Linked DNA regions of Homo sapiens. The protein of the gene in region 3 purifies or fractionates together with the protein of the main gene of each other region. This does not show direct contact. Each region holds a gene or a part of one and is shown on either strand. Other genes may lie near its edges.

The links.
Region 1: the proteins of MTMR2 (region 3) and SBF2 purify together in Homo sapiens (affinity purification with mass spectrometry; 3 studies listed by BioGRID and IntAct, with this or other methods). This does not show direct contact.
Region 2: the proteins of MTMR2 (region 3) and SBF1 purify together in Homo sapiens (affinity purification with mass spectrometry; 6 studies listed by BioGRID and IntAct, with this or other methods). This does not show direct contact.

The regions. Positions count from the first base shown.
Region 1 is NC_000011.10:10,291,023-10,299,273, forward strand, and holds the start of SBF2 (myotubularin-related protein 13), read right to left. Parts: upstream 3,198-8,251; 5' UTR 3,048-3,197; coding exon 2,993-3,047; intron 1-2,992. UniProt on the Homo sapiens protein: Guanine nucleotide exchange factor (GEF) which activates RAB21 and possibly RAB28. Promotes the exchange of GDP to GTP, converting inactive GDP-bound Rab proteins into their active GTP-bound form.
Region 2 is NC_000022.11:50,458,036-50,465,103, reverse strand, and holds part of SBF1 (myotubularin-related protein 5), read left to right. Parts: coding exon 1-103; intron 104-186; coding exon 187-285; intron 286-365; coding exon 366-570; intron 571-662; coding exon 663-775; intron 776-1,671; coding exon 1,672-1,821; intron 1,822-2,165; coding exon 2,166-2,234; intron 2,235-2,386; coding exon 2,387-2,545; intron 2,546-2,630; coding exon 2,631-2,899; intron 2,900-2,984; coding exon 2,985-3,157; intron 3,158-3,234; coding exon 3,235-3,308; intron 3,309-3,385; coding exon 3,386-3,581; intron 3,582-3,817; coding exon 3,818-3,945; intron 3,946-4,391; coding exon 4,392-4,570; intron 4,571-4,695; coding exon 4,696-4,832; intron 4,833-4,944; coding exon 4,945-5,152; intron 5,153-5,437; coding exon 5,438-5,634; intron 5,635-5,711; coding exon 5,712-5,849; intron 5,850-7,068. UniProt on the Homo sapiens protein: Acts as an adapter for the phosphatase MTMR2 to regulate MTMR2 catalytic activity and subcellular location. Promotes the exchange of GDP to GTP, converting inactive GDP-bound Rab proteins into their active GTP-bound form.
Region 3 is NC_000011.10:95,832,354-95,837,547, forward strand, and holds the end of MTMR2 (phosphatidylinositol-3,5-bisphosphate 3-phosphatase MTMR2), read right to left. Parts: intron 3,972-5,194; coding exon 3,795-3,971; intron 3,099-3,794; coding exon 2,937-3,098; 3' UTR 527-2,936; downstream 1-526. UniProt on the Homo sapiens protein: Lipid phosphatase that specifically dephosphorylates the D-3 position of phosphatidylinositol 3-phosphate and phosphatidylinositol 3,5-bisphosphate, generating phosphatidylinositol and phosphatidylinositol 5-phosphate.

The DNA.
Region 1 (8,251 bases), about 86 Mb from region 3:
GTACAAAGTTGTTCTCAAAGAGTGATGGGGATGTACCATAAGAACACAGAAGCCAGCTTGTACAACTCTCATTGGCCATATAAAGAACAATTTGAACATCAAAATAAATAATGCTATAGTCTGAATGTGTATGTCCCCTCCCAAAATTCGTATGTTAAAATCCTAACACCCAAAGTGATGGTATTATGAGGTGAGGCCTTTAGGAAGTGATCAGGTCATGGTGGTGGAGTCCTTGTGAATGGGATTAGTTCCCTTTTTAAAGAGACCCCAGAGAGCTCATTTGACCCTTAAGCCATATGAGGTTAAAGTGAGAACATGGCTATGAGGAAGCATGTCCTCACCAGACACTGAATCTGTCAGAGTCTTCATCTTGGATTTCTCTGCCTCCAGACTGTGAAAAATAAATTTCTATTGTTTATAAGCCACCCAGTTTGAGGTATTTTTGTTATAACAGCCCGAATGGACTAAGGCAAATAGTAACAGAATATAATCCGCGAGCTCCCCTTTCTGGTCTCACTTCGGCTGGATGTGCTTAGACTCTCCTATTTCCCACTCAAGCCAGTGCTTCGGGCAGGTGGGCTAGTGACTTTTTCCGAATAGACTAAGGCAAATAGTAACAGAATATAATCCACTAAACACACACACACACACACACACACACACACACACACACACAGACTCCATGTAGATGTCAATAAATGATTAAGAGTTTAGTGAGGAACAAGATATTTACATAGTTTCAAAGTACATGGCAAAAACAATTAAGTATTAACTTTACAGTGGAGAAGCCTCGCAGATATTACTTATATCAAGTAATCAAAGTAAAAATAACCAACAATGAAACAAAGTGAAATTGTGCACCACCTGACAGGATGCAGTGAGCATCACTTCTGTGATATCCTTCCCACGTGCATATTCGTATGTATCTAATCATGAAGGAACAGACAATCCCAAATTGAGGGGGCAGCCTACAAAGTGACTGACCTGTAATTGTTAAATATGTTAAGGTCATGAAAGTCAGGAGAAGATAAAGGAAATGTTCCAGATTGAGGGAGACAAAAGAGACATAACATGAATGCAACACATATTGCTAAACTGGATCCTTTTGCCAGTAAAGAGATTACTAGCACAATCAACAAAACTTGAACCAGTCTGAGAACTAGATGGAGTACTGTATCACTATCCATTTCCTGTTTTGGTTATTACACTGTGATCATGTAGGAGAACATTCTTGTTTGCAGAAAATGCACATTAAAGTATTCTGGGATGACAGGGCATCAGGTCAACAGCTTCCTCTCAAATTGTTGGGGGGCGGGTAGAATTTTTTGTACCATTCTTGCAACTTTTTTGCAAGTCTGTTATTGTTTCAACATTGTTGGCCGGGCGTGGTGGCTCAAGCCTGTAATCCCAGCACTTTGGGAGGCCGAGGCCGGTGGATCACGAGATCAGGAGTTCAAGACCAGCCTGGCCAGGATGGTGAAATCCCGTCTCTACTACAAATACAAAAATTAGCGGGCGTGTTGGCGGGCGCCTGTAAATCCCAGCTACTCCGGAGGCTGAGGCAGAGAATTGCTTCAACCCGGGAGACAGAGGTTGCAGTGAGCCAAGATCGCACCACTGCACTCCAGCGTGGGCAACAGAGCAAAACTCCGTCTCAAAAAAAAAAAAAAAAAAAATTGTTTAAAAGTGGGGAGGGGGGGAGGCGGAACAATGTCACTAAAAACTAAAGGTTAAAAAACTGATTTCCCACACTTAATCTTGATAGAAAAGAAACATCAGACTATGCCAAATTACTAGGAAATAAAATTTTGGATCCAGAAGTTTAAACATTTAAACTTTCTCTTTAACAATTGACCTCAATCAGGTCATGACTGGTGAAAGAGAAAAGAACATGAAAGGTTCCCACTAAAGGAGAGGAAGTTCTTAGGAGAGGAATAATGAAAGAGAGAGTGGACCAAGAGTGGGTAGAACAATGGTATTCTGAGCTACCAATGGCTGTAACCATCAGGAAAACACAATCTCAGCATCTCTGAAAAATGAAGGGGCTGTAGAGCTGATATCTCAAATTCCTTGCAAATGTGGGACTAGAATTGCCCTAAAATAGAAGTGGTTTCCCAGCTCAATTTGTTATTACATTATGCTTAGCTACATAGTAATACAAGAGAATACAAATACAGAAATAAACGTGCATGAACCCTGAATTCTCTTAAGTTGTGGAAGTCCGTCAATTAAAGTGTAAAATACAATGCATTTGCCCAATTGTTCCTTACGACGAAAATTCTGTGACAAATAAAAAGAACAATGAAAACACATTAAAGTGAAACAAGATCACCTTCAGCGGTCAGCTGGCTGTCCTTAGTTAAAAGACAAGTCATGTCACTGTGAAGTGACCGTCACATTTGTCCTGAAAGAATAGGGAGCATTTCCTAGAAAGGGGTAAAAGTGCAAAGAATCCTGTCCCCTTCCCTGGTACCACGCGTTCCTTGGGGAGGTCACTAGGCCCCCAACAGCACAGGGGTGAGTTAGCACTGGACTCTCAGCACTTCCTTTCGGAGAGGACAACCCCCTGCGTCACTGGTTACTCACTCAGGATGCAGGGCAGAAGTTTATCCCCGAGGAACTTAGCACAGTTGGCTCCCGCCCTCCCAGCCTTGCGGTCCTGGGCCCAATCTCAGGGCTCTCTCTGCCCCGGGTACCCTGCAGCCTCCAGCGGGAGGGTCGCGAGACCCCAACTCGCCTCCGGCCCGCCCAGCGGGTGCGCCCAGGGGCTGGGCAGACGCGGCGTCTTCCCTCCCCCTACCGTCGTGCCGGCCCCCCCACGCCCACCGCCAGGCTCAGCCCAGCCGAGAAGGCCGGACGCCGACCGCCCGCTCCTCCGAGACTCGGCCTGGCCCTCCCCGACGCCCGTCCCCGACGCCCGGCCCCGCGGAGCCCACTGGACAGCGGCCGGGGGGCGGGGAGGCCCGGGGGCGGTGCCGCCCCACACCCTTACCTGGCTTCTCGTGGTCATAGCCTACCACGATGAAGTAGTCAGCCAGCCGGGCCATGGCCGCCGCCGCCGCGCTCGGGAAGCGGGTCCCCGTCGCCGCCCTCGCCGCCGCCGCCCACCCGGCCCGGGAGGGCTCAGCATTTTCCCTGCAGCGGCAGTAGCGGCAGCGGCAGCGCTTCAGCCATGTTTGACAACCGAGGCGCGCTCTGCGCTTGCGCGGCGCCTAGTGCCCGCTCCTCCCCCGCCCCCACCCGCGCTGGCTCGGCTGCCCCAAGCCCGGGCGGCGAGCCCACCTCCACCCTCCGCGGGCCTCGCGGACTGCTGCGCTGGGGGAGTGGGCGGTCGGGCGTGTTCCCGCCACGCGCCGCCACCGCGGCCCCTGGAGGTGGTTCACTTTGAGGCCTGGATGCTGCTTCACGGCCCCCTCTGCCTCCCTATTTTTCCTAAAGCAGGGGGTCCTTCCTTCCGCCTTCTCTATTCTGTTTGGATTTGGAAGAAGGGATGTGGAGAGTTGAGGGGTCACTTGGAAAGCTGGCTGCTTCCTCTGCTCCCCACCACCACCAAAGATGAAATTCTCCCGCCCTCGGTTGGAAGCAAGGAATTTGCATCGACAGGGCTTTTGCTGCACGTTTCCTGTTTATGTTGTGTAGATGGGAATTTTAGAAACATGCCACCGAGCAGACGGGGGAGGGAGAGGCTTTTACGCAATCCTCCAAGGAGCCTCGGGTTTCAATGCCGGGTGGGCCGGGGGCGGTCGGCCTGGGCTTCCCCCGGAGCGCCCGGGAGAGCCAGATTCCACCGAGGAACGCGGCATCCCCGGGATCCTCCCGAACTGGGCTGGCCTCTCCCTGGGGAGCCCCGCACGCCTCGGCTTGCTTCCCTCGCAGCGGTCCCAGGGCTCTCGCAGCCCGAGCAGGTGGACTTCCAACTTCCCTGCTCAAACATGCACAAAAATGAATAGATGGTCCCGTCCTTCCGTCTCGGGATTATCAAAGTCGCTTGCTTTTTTGTTGAACCTCCTATTGACCATTTCGAATTTGGCTGGTGTGACATTCAGGTGAACTCACTTTGTCATTTGTTAATATCTCACGAAGTTTTAGTAGAATTTGTACAAGTGGTAGACCAAAGTTTTGGAAATCTCCGTGGTTTAGAAGTTGTCTTTGTGGTTGCTTATCACTGCTCACTATTAATTGAGGGTTTGATCCTTCATATTTACACATAAGACAAGGCCTCTTAGCAAAGCGTCTAGTATATAGTAGGTGCCTACAAAATATTTTAAATGAGTAAATGTGCGATTTTCCCCAACGACCAGCAGGAAGCCGCAATGGCTCCAACTCTGAACTGAGAGAGTTGACATCTCAGCTCCTGAAGATTTACTCTGCTGTAATTTACTATTTCCCCTTTCTCTGCCACACTTGTTTCATCTACAAATTGGGAGGGTTGGGCTGCACTAGAACTGAAACTGAAGGAATACTTTAACTCCAGGACCTCTATGTCAGTTGCTAATGGTAAAACTGAATCAGCTGAATTTGCAAACGTGGAGGGAAGATAGTTTGATCCTGAAAATAATTAAACCAAAAAAAAAAAAACCTCAGTCATACCCCGTGCAGCAATCCTCTCTGTAACTTCCCTGAGAGCTCATCATCCAACTTGATCACTTTCAGTAAAAAGTAATCTTACTTCCTTGGGAGGCAGCGCATTCCACTGTTTAACAGCCCTATTGTTAGAAAGTTCTTCCTTATTATTTCAGAGTTGTCTTACTGTAACTTCCCCTGATTCTGCTCTCCGGAACTATCCAGAAAAAAAAAATCTATCTTCATATGATAGATTTTTAAGGCAGCTATCATATTCCTTCCCAACTTTTCTAAAAATAGGGCAAAATTCACATATTGTAAAATTAGCCACTTGAAAATGTAGAATTCAGTGGCAATTAAGTACATTCCCAATGCTGTACAACTACCATGTCTATCTAGTTACAAAACATTTTCATCACCCAAAAGAAAACCTCACAACCATTAAGCAGTCATTCTCATTCTCCCCTCCCACAGCCCCTGGCAATCACCATTTTGCTTTCTGTCTCTATGGATTTACCTATTATGAATATTTCATATTCATATCATACAATATGTGGGTTTTTTGTGTCTTGGTTTTTCTCACTTAGTATATTGTTCTCAGCTTGTTTACGGGCAGATACAGTACAAGGTTGTAGCATCACATTGAAGTATCAATACTTCATTATTTTTTATGACTCAATAATATTCCATTGTATATTGTGTTAGACTGTTCTCACGGTGCTAATAAAGACATACCCGAGACTAGGTAATTTATAAAGAGAAGAGGTTTAATTGACTCACAGTTCCACATGGCGGAAGGCAAGGAGAGCAAAGCGGCAGACAAGAGAGCTTATGCAGAACTCTCCTTTATACCATCAAATCTCATAAAACTTATTCACTATCACCACAACAGCAGGAGAAAGACCCGCCCCCATGATTCAATTACCTTCCACCGGATCCCTCCCATGACAGGTGGGAATTATGGGGTACAATTCAAGATGAAATTTGGGTGAGGACACAGCCAAACCATATCATATGTATATACCATATTTTGTTTATCTGGAACAACCCATATGGACATATGGGTTGTTTCCACCTTTTGGCATTGTGAATAGTGCTGCTTCAAACATGCATGTACATGTATTTGAGTACCTGTTTTCAATTTTGGGGATATATTCTTGGGATTGGAATTACTGGATTAAGTAGTTCTGTTACTACTGTTTTCCACAGTGGCTGCATCATTTTACATTTTCACCAGCAATGCACTAGGGTTCTGATTTCTCTGCATCTTTGTCAACTCTTGTTTTCCTGTTGTTTATGTTTTGTTATAGCTATCTTAGTGTGAAGTGATATCTCATTGTGGTCCTGTTTTGCCTTTCCCTAAAGACTAATGATGTTGAGGATCTTTTCATGTGTTTATTGGCCATTGCTAAATCTTCTTTGGAGAAATGTCTATTCAAGTCCTTTGCCCATTTTTTAATTGATTCTTTGTCTTTTTGAGGTTGAGTTGTAAGAGTTCTTTATATATTCTGGATACTAGTCCTTGTCAGATATATGATTTGCAGATATTTTCCCATTCTGTACGTTGTCTTTTCATTTTCTTTTTAAAATTGTTATGCCCTATTCCCCCCCCCAAATATTTCCTATTTTTATTTTATTTTTCATTTTATTTTTATGTAGAGATGTTGTATCATGATGTTGCCCAGGCTGGTCTTAACCTCCTGTCCTCAGGCAATCCTCCCACCTAGCCCTCCCAAGGTACTAGGATTAGAGGCATGAGCTTCCACACCCAGACTTCATTTTCTTGATAATGTCCTTTGGCTCAAAAAAGTTTTTAATTTTGATAAAGTCCACTTTTTTAGTTTGTTTCTATGCTTTTAGTGTTATATCTAAAAAATTATTGCCATATTAAAGGTGAGATGAAGATTTACTGGTTTCCTTCATAGTTTTAGCTCTTTAGTACTTTGACCCATTTTGAGTTAATTTTGTAGTGGTAAGGGGTCTTGTTTTACCTTTTAAATGTCTTGGCTTTTATTTCATTTGCAAGTACTCATTTAAATTATTTTAATTTTTTAAAATCAAAGTTTATTGTTTTTAAGCCTAGAATCAAATGCTATTCTGCTTTTAGGCATATTTCATCTGTTACTGTCATAAGTAGACTTCCAGTCCATTTGCAAATGCCCATTTTGTCACACAGAGATTTTAACATATCCTAGGTACATGTAGAAAGGCACTGTGTGTTTGTATATACATGTGAACATATTTTGTATACACTAAAGCTGTGCTTTGCTTCTCAGCCAACAGCTGCCAGCCTGTTGAAACTGATAAGCCCTGACAAGGCAGCCTGATTACTGAGGTTGGCTGAAAGCCAGACCATCCCCTACAATAACCACCATCACCTTTCACCAAAGAGAGAGAGAGTAAAGCAAGCCCAGATTTGTTTTCCTGAAGGCTGATGGGAGCAGGAAGGGAAGAAGGGTATGTAACACTATCATGATGTGTATGTGGCAGATACCTTTCTTTTTTGCTTTAGAAGACGAAATAGATGGAATGCGGTGGCTCACACCTGTAATCCCAGCACTTTGGGAGGCCGAGGCAGGTGGATCACCTAAGGTCAGGAGTTCAAGACCAGCCTGACCAACATGGTGAAACCCTGTCTCTACTAAAAACACAAAAATTAGCTGGGCATGGTGGCAGGTGCCTGTAATCCCAGCTACTTGGGAGGCTGAGGCAAGAGAATTGCTTGAACCCAGGAGGCAGAGGTTGCAGTGAGCCAAGATCGCGCCATTGCACTCCAGCCTGGGCAACAAGAGTGAAACTCCCGTTCAAAAAATTAAAATAAAAAATTTTAAAAAAGACAAAATAGAGCTAATTATCAGTGAGCAAGGCTTATCAGCCCATTGCCCCTAGTGGGCTATTGCGGAGTAAGTGGTTTGATCTGTACAGTCATTTCAAGTGCTTGCTGTGGTTAGCCACAGTAGTTCAAGGAGGCAGTATGAGAGTCAGACTTGAGCAAACATCACCAGGCAGGGCTGAGGCCTCTTCAGATCGTCTCTACCAAAGCATAACAAAGGAGACTATGCAGCTGTGGTGGAAAATTCCCTGATCCATTGCTATATTTTCAACCATTTAGTTCCCTAAGCAAGAAATTTAATGAATCTTACCCTTGACAGCTGCCTCTCAGCCCCACATTCATCACTCAGTCCTATTGTTCCTACTTCCCAAATATGTCCGCTTCTCTCCACCCTCACTGCCACCCCACTAGTTTGAGCCGTTATCACCTTCTACCTTTATTATTGCAATAGGTTCTTAACTGTTTTCCCAGCTTCACCGATGGTTTCAAACTTTCTATATAGGTAAAAGTTAAGGACAGTAAGCAGGTTATTGAACCTGTCTCAAAATTAAATTTGTATAGCAAACACACCATTTCTACCTTGAGTGTGTGTTTGGGGTGCAAAGAAAAGGCTTCATAGATGACGTAGAAAGTGTCCTGGCCAGGTGTGGTGGCTCACGCCTGTAATCGCAGCACTTTGGGAGGCCAAGTTGGGCGGATCATGAGGTCAGCAGATCGAGATCATCCTGGCTAACACGGTGAAACCCTGTCTCTACTAAAAATACAAAAAATTAGCCAGGAGTGGTGGCGGGCACCTGTAGTCCCAGCTACTCAGGAGGCTGAGGCAAAAGAATGGCGTGAACCCAGGAGGCAGAG
Region 2 (7,068 bases), on a different chromosome or scaffold from region 3:
GGTAGAGGACGATTTCCTGATGAAGGTGCTGGAGGGCATGGCCTTTGCTGGCTTTGTGTCAGAGCGTGGGGTCCCATACCGCCCTACGGACCTGTTCGATGAGGTGCACCTCCACCCTGCCCTCCCAGCCCCCTGCCCTGGCTCCGCCTGACCATGGCTTACCTAACCTCCTGCTTACCCCGCTAGCTGGTGGCCCACGAGGTGGCAAGGATGCGGGCGGATGAGAACCACCCCCAGCGTGTCCTGCGTCACGTCCAGGAACTGGCAGAGCAGCTCTACAAGAACGTACGAGGGTAGCAGGACGGGAGGGCGTCGTACCGCCTTGATCCCTGGGCCCCTGCCCCACACCTGCCGTCTCCCCACAGGAGAACCCGTACCCAGCCGTGGCGATGCACAAGGTACAGAGGCCCGGTGAGAGCAGCCACCTGCGACGGGTGCCCCGACCCTTCCCCCGGCTGGATGAGGGCACCGTGCAGTGGATCGTGGACCAGGCTGCAGCCAAGATGCAGGGTGCACCCCCAGCTGTGAAGGCCGAGAGGAGGACCACCGTGCCCTCAGGGCCCCCCATGAGTGCGTAATGAGGGAGGGGAAGGCAGGCCCCGAGCGTGGCCCAGGATGGGCGTGGGGTCAGGGGTCCGAGTGTGTGTATTCTGTCCCCGCAGCTGCCATACTGGAGCGGTGCAGTGGGCTGCATGTCAACAGCGCCCGGCGGCTGGAGGTTGTGCGCAACTGCATCTCCTACGTGTTTGAGGGGAAAATGCTTGAGGCCAAGAAGGTGAGGGCTGTGCAGGCTCCAGCCGGGCCAGGGCAGCGGGTTTCAGAGGAGACCCAGGCTGCACTTCACCCTTGTGAGTGCTGACGCTGCCCCAGGGCCTCCTCTGCCTAACAGACAGCTAGAGGTGGCTGGGCTGGCCGGAGGGTAGGTGGGCTCCAGGTCTCCTCTCTTGACCTCAGTGAGGGGTGGGTCGGGCCTGCGCGGGAGACCCAGCCAGGGAGATGTACTTCCATTTTTAGAAATCAGAAGGTTTCACTATTATGTTTCGTCTGTGTCCTTCCCCTTAAATTGGGTAGGCCCATACACGACCTGTTCTTTGTACTTGATGGAAAACAGAGCTTGCTCCCTCCATACGTGACCTGTTCCTTGCATCTTATGGAAACAGAGCTTTTTGCTCCTGCTGTTTTGCTCTCTGTGGTGCTCACTTAACGCCTCTGGGGTCTTTCATCATGGCCAGTTGGAGACTCTTGTTTTTCATTGGCTGTATGGTGTCCCTTTGGGGCGGCCAGTTTTGTGATGAACGTTGTAGCAATAGAACGCAAACTCCAAGGCTTTCTGTGGCCGGGCCTGTGCCAGGCGAGTCACTGAGCCAGCCAGGCAGCTGTGAGCCTGTGAGCAAGGGGGCCCGGCCCGCAAGGCCTCCCTCCGGAGCGCACCTCCCTGCCAGCTCACAGGTGCAGCATCTGCGTCCTTGTGTCTGGCCTGGTGAACTTGTACTTGTGGAGTTGTCGGGCCCACTGGAGGTTTTAGTCTTTATTGGTCGGCAAAGCCCCAGAGTCTGGCACACCCCACCTGAAAGGCATTTGGGTCTCCTGGACACCTGCTGCCCTCCCTGCCAGGGCCCCGAGTGGGTCTTCTCTGTGCCCTCAGCCCGTGTCTCCTTTCCCCACCCCCAGCTGCTCCCAGCCGTGTTGAGGGCCCTGAAGGGGCGAGCTGCCCGCCGCTGCCTCGCCCAGGAGCTGCACCTGCATGTGCAGCAGAACCGTGCGGTCCTGGACCACCAGCAGTTTGACTTTGTCGTCCGTATGATGAACTGCTGCCTGCAGGTGAGGCCTCTTATCCTGCTAGTGACATGGCTCATGGCGCATGAGCGGGAACAGGCGGGCAGACCCTGGTCTGTGAGTGAGAGTGGAGAGACGGTGCAAGAGACTCCTGTGCCAGTGGGCAGGGGTCCTCGGTCTGCAGGGAACAGGGTGGAGAGAACCATTGTTGGGGGCAGGTGCTGGGGCCTGGGGTCTCCTGATATTGAGCCTCTGAGGCAGCCTTGGGGAGCTGGAGCCAAGGGTGTCAGGTGCTGGTCTGTGGTGGTTATGGGGTGGTGGGGGCATGGTGGGAGGTGAGTGCTGCCTGGGAGGGGAGAGGTCCTGACGGTCTCTCGCTCTACCTGCAGGACTGCACTTCTCTGGACGAGCATGGCATTGCGGCGGCTCTGCTGCCTCTGGTCACAGCCTTCTGCCGGGTGAGTGCTGGCATGGCTGAGGTCTCCTTCCCAGCCCCCCCTTCCTGGTGGCTGAGGTCTCCTTCCCAGCCCCCCTTCCTGGTGGCCGAGGTCTCCTTCCCAGCCGCCCTTCCTGGCTGCATCCAGCTGACCTTCTCCCCTGGCTCCTGCAGAAGCTGAGCCCGGGGGTGACGCAGTTTGCATACAGCTGTGTGCAGGAGCACGTGGTGTGGAGCACGCCACAGTTCTGGGAGGCCATGTTCTATGGGGATGTGCAGACTCACATCCGGGCCCTCTACCTGGAGCCCACGGAGGACCTGGCCCCCGCCCAGGTGCGCAGGGACTCCCTGGGCTGGGGGCTGGGGGCTAGGGGCTGGGGCAGCGTGGCCCCGGCTCATGCGTGTGGTGCCGTGGCAGGAGGTTGGGGAGGCACCTTCCCAGGAGGACGAGCGCTCTGCCCTAGACGTGGCTTCTGAGCAGCGGCGCTTGTGGCCAACTCTGAGTCGTGAGAAGCAGCAGGAGCTGGTGCAGAAGGAGGAGAGCACGGTGTTCAGCCAGGCCATCCACTATGCCAACCGCATGAGCTACCTCCTCCTGCCCCTGGACAGCAGCAAGAGCCGCCTACTTCGGGAGCGTGCCGGGCTGGGCGACCTGGAGAGCGCCAGCAACAGCCTGGTCACCAACAGGTGAGGCAGGGACTGGGGGTTGGGCCCAGTGGAGGCGGGGCCGTGGTGGGCAGGGCCCATGCCCACAGTTTCTTCTCTGGCCCAGCATGGCTGGCAGTGTGGCCGAGAGCTATGACACGGAGAGCGGCTTCGAGGATGCAGAGACCTGCGACGTAGCTGGGGCTGTGGTCCGCTTCATCAACCGCTTTGTGGACAAGGTCTGCACGGAGAGTGGGGTCACCAGCGACCACCTCAAGGGGCTGCATGTCATGGTGCCAGGTACGGGGGTTTGGGCTGGTGATTCCCCCTTGGATGGGTGGGGCTGGGCACAAAGTGTGAGAACTGTCTTCCCCCAGACATTGTCCAGATGCACATCGAGACCCTGGAGGCCGTGCAGCGGGAGAGCCGGAGGCTGCCGCCCATCCAGAAGGTTTGCGGGGGCCGTTGGGGCTGCGGGGGCCCAAGGCCCGGGCTGCATCCTGAGCTCCTGCTCTTGTTTTCGAGCAGCCCAAGCTGCTGCGGCCGCGCCTGCTGCCGGGTGAGGAGTGTGTGCTGGACGGCCTGCGCGTCTACCTGCTGCCGGATGGGCGTGAGGAGGGCGCGGGGGGCAGTGCTGGGGGACCAGCATTGCTCCCAGCTGAGGGCGCCGTCTTCCTCACCACGTACCGGGTCATCTTCACGGGGATGCCCACGGACCCCCTGGGTGAGCCTGCAGACTCTCTGGCCCTGTCGCCCCCTCTCCCCCAGGTCTTTGGGATGGATGGGCTTTCCCTGCCTCCCTCTCCCTTTTCTCGGGGGTTCTGGGTGCCCGTGGGAAACGGGCCTTTGTCTGCTCCTTCCCCACCCACTTGGGATTCCCCATAACTGTGGTACCCTGAGATTCTGGGACCCCCCCCCCCTTACCTTCCTTGCTTCTGACTCTGCCTGGCCTGTCCTAAGTTGGGGAGCAGGTGGTGGTCCGCTCCTTCCCGGTGGCTGCGCTGACCAAGGAGAAGCGCATCAGCGTCCAGACCCCTGTGGACCAGCTCCTGCAGGACGGGCTCCAGCTGCGCTCCTGCACATTCCAGGTGGGGCGCGGTGCGCGGGTGGGGCTCTCATCCCCCGCCCTGGTCTTTCTCCTGCAAACCGGTCTTTCTTGTATGAACCATTTTTAGGCCAGTCTCCAGCAGTGGCCCTGTTGTTACGCTTGCATGTCTGGGGCCCTCACTGTGGCTCTTGAGTTGATGTCCACTGTTTGATGTGCGGTCTTTGGGTCCTTGTCCTTTCCTTGGGGCGCCGGCCCTCAAGTCCGTGTCTTGGGTGTGCCTTGCAAACCCAGGCCTCAGCTCACAGCCACTGAGATTTCGAGTTTACACAAGCGCTTGCCTTCGTGTGACACAGATACAGGCCTTTGCCTGGGGCCTGCTTCTCTCTCTGTCATGGCTGCGAGGGGAAGGGGAGCCTGGCAGTGTCAGAGTTGGGGGAGGGGCTGGGGGGCCACCCACACCCCTAAGGGCTGCTTTTACTGACACAGCTGCTGAAAATGGCCTTTGACGAGGAGGTGGGGTCTGACAGCGCCGAGCTCTTCCGTAAGCAGCTGCATAAGCTGCGGTACCCGCCGGACATCAGGGCCACCTTTGCGTTCACCTTGGGCTCTGCCCACACACCTGGCCGGCCACCGCGAGTCACCAAGGACAAGGGTCCTTCCCTCAGGTATGGATCTGGGTCCCAGGCAGGGCAGCTGGGCCTCAGCCGTGTTCCCGCTCCAACCCTCCTAGGCCCCTGTGCTCATCTTTGTCCCTCCTCCTCTCACCTTTGCTGACTCTCGTGGGCCTCAGAACCCTGTCCCGGAACCTGGTCAAGAACGCCAAGAAGACCATCGGGCGGCAGCATGTCACTCGCAAGAAGTACAACCCCCCCAGCTGGGAGCACCGGGGCCAGCCGCCCCCTGAGGACCAGGAGGACGAGATCTCAGGTGGAGGGGTGGGGGTGGAGTCCTGGGTGGTCTCTGGATGCTGACATTGGCCAGGGAGGATCAGGGCAGGCGGAGTGGCCCCGTGATGACCACGTGTGCCCGGCCTGTGCAGTGTCGGAGGAGCTGGAGCCCAGCACGCTGACCCCGTCCTCAGCCCTGAAGCCCTCCGACCGCATGACCATGAGCAGCCTGGTGGAAAGGGCTTGCTGTCGCGACTACCAGCGCCTCGGTCTGGGCACCCTGAGCAGCAGCCTGAGCCGGGCCAAGTCTGAGCCCTTCCGCATTTCTCCGGTCAACCGCATGTATGCCATCTGCCGCAGGTGAGGGCCGGCCAGGGCTGGCCCGGGTGGTGGACACGTGACTGGGTGTCTTCCCTGCCCGCTGTGGGCCTGGGCCACGGCTTCTGGTCATGTAAGGAATGTGGAGGGGGAGACTCCGGGCAGAGGGACGGGCCACAGGGCTGGGGGGTGGCTGGGGGGCCCCGTGGCTGAGCTGGAAGCGCCTCCTGCTGGGAGCCATGGGCTGGCTCCTCTTGCCCTGCTTGGGGCGTGAGCCTGGAGGCGGGTGGGGTCGCCAGCCACCTTCACGCCTCTGCCTCCTCTCAGCTACCCAGGGCTGCTGATCGTGCCCCAGAGTGTCCAGGACAACGCCCTGCAGCGCGTGTCCCGCTGCTACCGCCAGAACCGCTTCCCCGTGGTCTGCTGGCGCAGCGGGCGGTCCAAGGCGGTGCTGCTGCGCTCTGGAGGCCTGCATGGCAAAGGTGTCGTCGGCCTCTTCAAGGCCCAGAACGCACCTTCTCCAGGTACCTCCTGCGTCCTGCCCTGTGCCTGCCCTGCCCTATCTCACCCTCCCCTCCCTCAGCTCCGTGTCCTCCCCCAGGCCAGTCCCAGGCGGACTCGAGTAGCCTGGAGCAGGAGAAGTACCTGCAGGCTGTGGTCAGCTCCATGCCCCGCTACGCCGACGCGTCGGGACGCAACACGCTTAGCGGCTTCTCCTCAGCCCACATGGGCAGTCACGGTGAGGGTGCTTGTGGGCAGACGGTGGGGCAGGGGCACTTTGGGGGGCCGTGGTGGCATTTATGGTTTGGCAGGCAGGCCAGGGAGGAGCAGAAACGGCGCTGGTCATGGATGTTTGGGTGTGGGATGAGGAGCATGCCCTCCGGGTGCCGTGGGGCAGGGGCGGGAAGCCTGTCCAGACCAAGTGTGTGCCCAGACCAGGTGTGTGCCCTGACCTCCTGCCCGCCCTGACGTCCTGCCCGCTCTCCACCTCTGCGTCTGCTGCAGCTTCCTGTAGGGTCCTCCGGGTGCTGCCTCTACGCGGCTCTGTCTTACCATTTCCCACAGCCTGGAAACATCCCAGATGCTCCTCTGTCCTGTTCCCTCCCAGTGTCACTGTTTTTCCTCATCCCCCACACTCCACCCTCCCTGCATCCCCCAATCCAGACTGTCTTTGGAGCCTCTGGCCTGGCTCTGCCTGCAGCTTGGCCTCTGTCCTCGTGTGTCCTGGTTCCTTGGGCCTTGCCCGAGCTGGCCTTGCTGTCTCTGTCCCCACCGCCACGCACACTTCACAGGCGCCCTGCACACACTGAGCTAGACTGGCCCCAGGACGGGGTGGCAGATAGGCCCCACACTCACTCCTGTGTCCGGACCACCTGTTCTCTAGTTCAGAAGTGGTTTTGTTTTTCCAGATACCACATTATATACTTACATTTTACAATCGCCCTGTCTTGCTGCCTTCCCACCCCTGCCAGAAACCCTGAGTGGCATTTGCAGGTGGGGCCGCCCCTGCACCCCCCATGCCTGTGCTTCCCACAGAGTCCCTTTTGCGTCTCCGACCATCCCCAGTGCCAGTGGCTGCTGCCTCCCCGTGTCCCCCTCAGTGCCCAGCAATGCTCAGGGGCTCAAGCTTCACTCAGCTGTAGTCGTGGCTTCTAGTCCCAGCCCTGACCTTTTTTTTTTTTTTTTTTTGAGTCGGAGTCTTTCTCTGTCACCCACGCTGGAGTGCGGTGGTGCGATCTCGGCTCACTGCAAGCTCCACCTCCCAGGTTCACGCCATTCTCCTGCCTCAGCCTCCCGAGTAGCTGGGACTACAGGTGCCCGCCACCGCGCCCGGCTGATTTTTTTGTATTGTATTTTTAGTAGAGACAGGGTTTTACCGTGTTAGCCAGGATGATCTCGATCTCCTGACCTGGTGATCCGCCCGCCTCGGCCTCCCAAAGTGCTGGGATTACAGGCGT
Region 3 (5,194 bases):
CACTCATGCTTACATAGAAAGAGAGCCCAAGAATATTAGATTTCCTCATGATACAAGATACTACAGTAACAGGCTTTAATTTAGGATCCTTAAGATTTTGGGGTATTATTTGTGACTCTCCTGAAATTGTAAACTTGTGCTTCTGTGTCCAGTTTTCTAATGAGTAGGTTCGTAGCTTGATTGAATTAATAATTGTGAGCCCATAGACACAAGGGAAGTGAGAAACAGTGCTCTGGTGACATGATAAATATATGTGTCAACCACCATTTCAGCTATTAAAAACTCCTGTTATCTCCTTGTTTGAATTTCAGGTCATTAAATTGTATAACCATCATTTGAATTGTAGTGGCTCTGAGTCCTAATTAGGAGAATGGTGATTGAATGATGCTAAATCCCACCCCTTTTCTCAGCTAGGATTCAAACTGAACTACTCCAGCTTTTTGTACTGTCAGGTGAGAAGTGAAAAAATACTGCTTCCATTTTCTTATCTGCAAGTTTACAGTAGAGGAATGTGTCATCCATCCACTTACGTTGTAACAGAGCTTTATTGCAATTCATTTCAAATAAGGTTATGTTTACAGACTTGTGGTAGACATGTGAATTGTTCATTCCAATATAATGTGAATTGCAGTGGTAGTAGCGGTATACACAGTGCTATGGGGGCACAGAGGAAGGTGGGGATGTCAGAGAAGGCAGTCGTGAATCAGATAACTTCCCAAAGGAAGAGATGATGCCTAAACTCTAGAAAATAGGAATTAGTCACAAGGGAGAACAGTTGTTCCAGGTGCACAAGACAGACTGAACCAAAGTGGGGAGGCAGGAATCTGCAGATTACATGAGGCAATTGTGAACAGCAGAGTAGCATTGGTACGTAAAAGTTGAGGTATGCAGAGACTAGGTCGAAGGAGGCTAAGGAGCTTCAACTTAATCATACTGGTCTCTAAATTTTGTAACCCTAATCAAAAAGGGAAAAAATTACACCTGCACAACCAATAGACATACAAAGTTATGAAACATGTAACTGTCAATTCAAATATTTAAAAGTTTTGCTTGTGTAAATATATAAAAAGGGCTAGTATTCCTCCTCCCTCCCTCCCACACACACCAGTGGTATATATTAAATGCCCAAGTGCATGTACTCCATATTGGAGACTTCTGCAGAAGGTGAGGGGAACCACTGGAAGGTTCTCAGCAGAGAAGTGGTAGGGTTGCACTTAGATTTCCCTGGCTTTTGATTTGAATTTGAAGTGGATGCAAGTATGTTAAGACTAGAAGCTTTAAATTCTTGATCTCTTCAGCCATTCTACATTCTTTTATGTGGTATCAGGCCAAGATAACCAAGGTTTAAATGAGGAAAATGGCAGATGCGTTTGTGAAATACTTGGAGTAGAAAGCTTAATTTTTAATTACTGATTTGCTAGCCACTTAAATGCCCTGTTAAAAAGCTTATATTTCACACAATTACCAAAGAAATCATTTTGGTACCAATTTTGCTAAATTGGATATACTAATAGAAACTTCCTCACTGCAAGACCAAGAGGGAGGCTAAGGTTCAGACTCTCTGTATAGTGAATTAGTGAGTGGAAAAACACTGTATATTTTAATTGTTTGATTTGGGTGTTGGTTAAGGAAAAATGGGTACAAACTGAACATTTTCATCTGGGGTGCATATTCCTCCAATAATTTCCAAATATTTCTGGGGAAAAAAAAGAAATGGCAACTTTGGACAAGAACAAAGTTTAAAAGTCAGTTGGAATTTCTTTTAATTAAAAGACCAAGGGGACAAGAAGCTCCTTTGTTACAGTACATTACATATGGCTCTTATGTAGAATAAAATAGACATCAGAGTCAAATGTTTCTACCAGCACCAAACTCTTACTTGTAGCAGGTGAACAGTGAAGCAAGATTTCTTTTACTGGCTTTGAGATTGTAATACATCTTTTACATGCAGTGTGTTCTTTGGTAGACTTAATCGTTGAGTGAAATTACAGAATTTGCAAAGGAAAAAAATGTAAAATTTGAGCACAGTACTTCTCACTATAAGCTATTTATACAGAATTCAGAAAAAATGTCAATCCTAGTAAGATTTTTAAATACTTCTTAAAAACTTGCTAATTAGCTTCTGTGTGTTCAGACACACAAGACAAGTGAAATACACTGTAGTAAATAATTAGTTTTTAAAATATCTTTCATGATGTTTCTGGTAATTGGGCTAATCTGAAGGGCATGGAATTCTTTGAACTCCTGTATGGCTACTTTCTCCCCTTCATTTTCCCCCAAGCACATCTATAAGGCCTCCCATTTTGGATCAACTTGCTAATATGTCTTAAGTATGTAAATAATGACGGCAATAATTTTCAACTACTACCACACCGTAGTATCTTCAACACTTTGCCTTTTACTATATGAAGAATATGGAAGTTGAAAAGTGATCAAGGTAAATCAGTTACTGAAAAAAAGAAAAACCTAGAATGGAGAAAGGGATATCAAATGATTTTGATCTGTCATGACATCAAGGCCCAATATATGTGATGCCACAGAATTTCAGTGTTGGTTTGAAAACTGATGTTCCTCTGCACAGTGAGCACAGAGTGTATTTCTAAAATGGTTTTAATATTACCAGATGCCAAAAATTTGTAACAGCATTTGCCTTTTAATAGAAACTTGTTCCCACTGTGAATCCAGGATTGAAGTATTTTAATATTCTTTGGATACTTAAAAGATTAGTATCATAATCATGTAATTACATATGGAGTTACTTCACTTAAGCCACCTGCACTGCTACAGTTCTAAACTCATCCTAGAGAGATTTAAAATAAATAAAGTGACTGAACTTTCTCTCATAGATGGGTTCTAAATTCCGAAGACTTTCTACTCATAGAGCTGCCAGTGTAATCAAGAGTGTATAGCAATGATGCCCCTGATCTTACAGTCCTTTATACAACAGTTTGGACAGGAGTGACACACTGTGCAGGAGAGCTGGCTCTCTCTGAGGATGAGGTTGATCGGTTAGAAATCTCTCTCTGTAGTTCCTCTACTTTTTTCTGAAGCTCTGCTCGTTTAGCAAGAAGTTCTTTGTATCTGTTGTGAATAGGTTCCTGCAAGAGCAAAACATAAAATATTCAACTAGGCAATCCTGACCAAAGCCAGGTCAAATCATTCCCTAAATGTTGCAGTGTATGTTTTTTCAGCTGTTGGAACCAATGGCACCTTTCCAACCCATCAGTGAAATTAAATACCGGGACTGTGGACACCACTAATCTTTTCACTGGCTTTCCCAGTGCCCCTGAGTATTTCCAAAGAATAACCTGCTGTGTAGGTGCTCCTGAAACTGGTACTTTTCCAAATACAACAAATAATTAACAAGACAATTAAAAGACAGTAGTCAGAAGATTCCCTGTTATTTATAGGTTTTTAGTCTTAAACAGTTCTAAGTAGTTAATATTCCATAAACATATTCACAGTAGACCAGAATTTTGTTCAGCTTTTAACTTTCCTAAAGCTACTTTCTTCAGCTTATTAAAACAAGACCCCCTAGAGGTTATCCAGACAGAGGAGGGAAGATGCAAGAAAAGAGAGCAGTGATTTGTCCAATGTCATACAAGCAGTCCTAAGAACCAGGTATACTGATTACCCTGCCCCAGTGTAGTATTTTTCTACTATACGATTGTTAACTATCAATGGGTAAGGAGTAAAGTTTTAAATATGCACAGATAATCTTTCCAGCTGCTTTTAAGGAGACAAAGTTGCACTGCATGAATGAAAACTCCCATTGTATATTGTAAGGCACATACCTGTGGTTTCATCCGTGGATTCCACCTTATGTAATATCCCACCCAGAGCTCTAGGTGGCGCATGCTGGCTACTGGATAAAGGACATGATTGGAATAGCTCCCATAGAGAGGATTAGTGAAGTCTTCCAGCTGGCTGTTTATGTAAGACCACAGTGACACAGTCCTTTTAGGAAGATTCTGTAGGCAGGAAAAATAGGTAAAGATTCTCCACCACATAAGCCATTTACACTTTAGATGAAATTTGTGAAGAAGTACTTTGTTGTCATTAAAATCTCTTTAGAGGAAGTGGACTTGGAGACTTCAGTGATAAACCAACTTATATTAAGATCAGAGGGTACTGGAAAACAGTATGCAGTTCCTCAAAGAGATACCATATGACCCAACAATTCCACTCTTGTACATATCCAGCAAACAGAAGACATGTCTGTACAAAAACTTTTTTATAGATGTTCAAAGCAGCATTATTCATTAACAGCCAAGAAGTGGGAACAACCTAAAAGTCCATCAACTGACGAATGGATAAGTAAAATATATCCACACAATGGAATATTATTCAGCCATAAAAAGAAATGATATAAAATGTATGAACCTTGAAAGCATATTAAAGGAAAGGAGCTAGACACAAGGTTTACATATTAAATGATTCCATTTATATGAAATGTCCAGAAGAGGCAAATCTAGAGACAAAAACATTAGTGTTTGGCAGGGGTGAATGGGGAGTGACTATTAACAGGTTTTCTGAGGTGATGAAATGTTCTGAAATGAAAATGTGATGGCTGTACAACTCAGATATACTAAAAACCAGTCAACTATACACTATCAAAGTGAATTTCATGGTATGCATATTATTATCAATTTAAAAAGTTTTTTTAAAAATAATCAATGATTCCTACCCCAAGGCTCTCAAAAAATAAAACTCTTCGAAACTTAGCTATGCTATTTCTAATGAACATTCCTTAAGTTGTTGAGTGCCTGCTATGCATAGAAATACTTACTGCATGCTAGACACTGAAGACATAAGGTGAATTTAAAAATTTAATACCTGCCTTTAAGGAAGTCTAGGAAATACTACATAGCAGTTCTTGTGGTATTTTGTATTGCTTATTTAATAATCTTCATAATTTTACAAAAGCAGACATTAACTTCCCCAAGCGAACTGTTACAGTAAGTGATAGATCCAGGATTTGAACCCAGCAACTGGGCTTCAGTGCAAGTACTTATTCCTACTGTGCTTTATAAAATAAAACATAAATACTTTGTAACCACATTTTTTAGAATAAAAGTTGATGCAGAGGGAGATACCAATCAAGATGATTAAGATGTTGATACATAGGATAGACAAGTTTTGATAAAGAAGTAAAACTTGAAATGTAATCCTTACACCATTTCTTCTTAATACC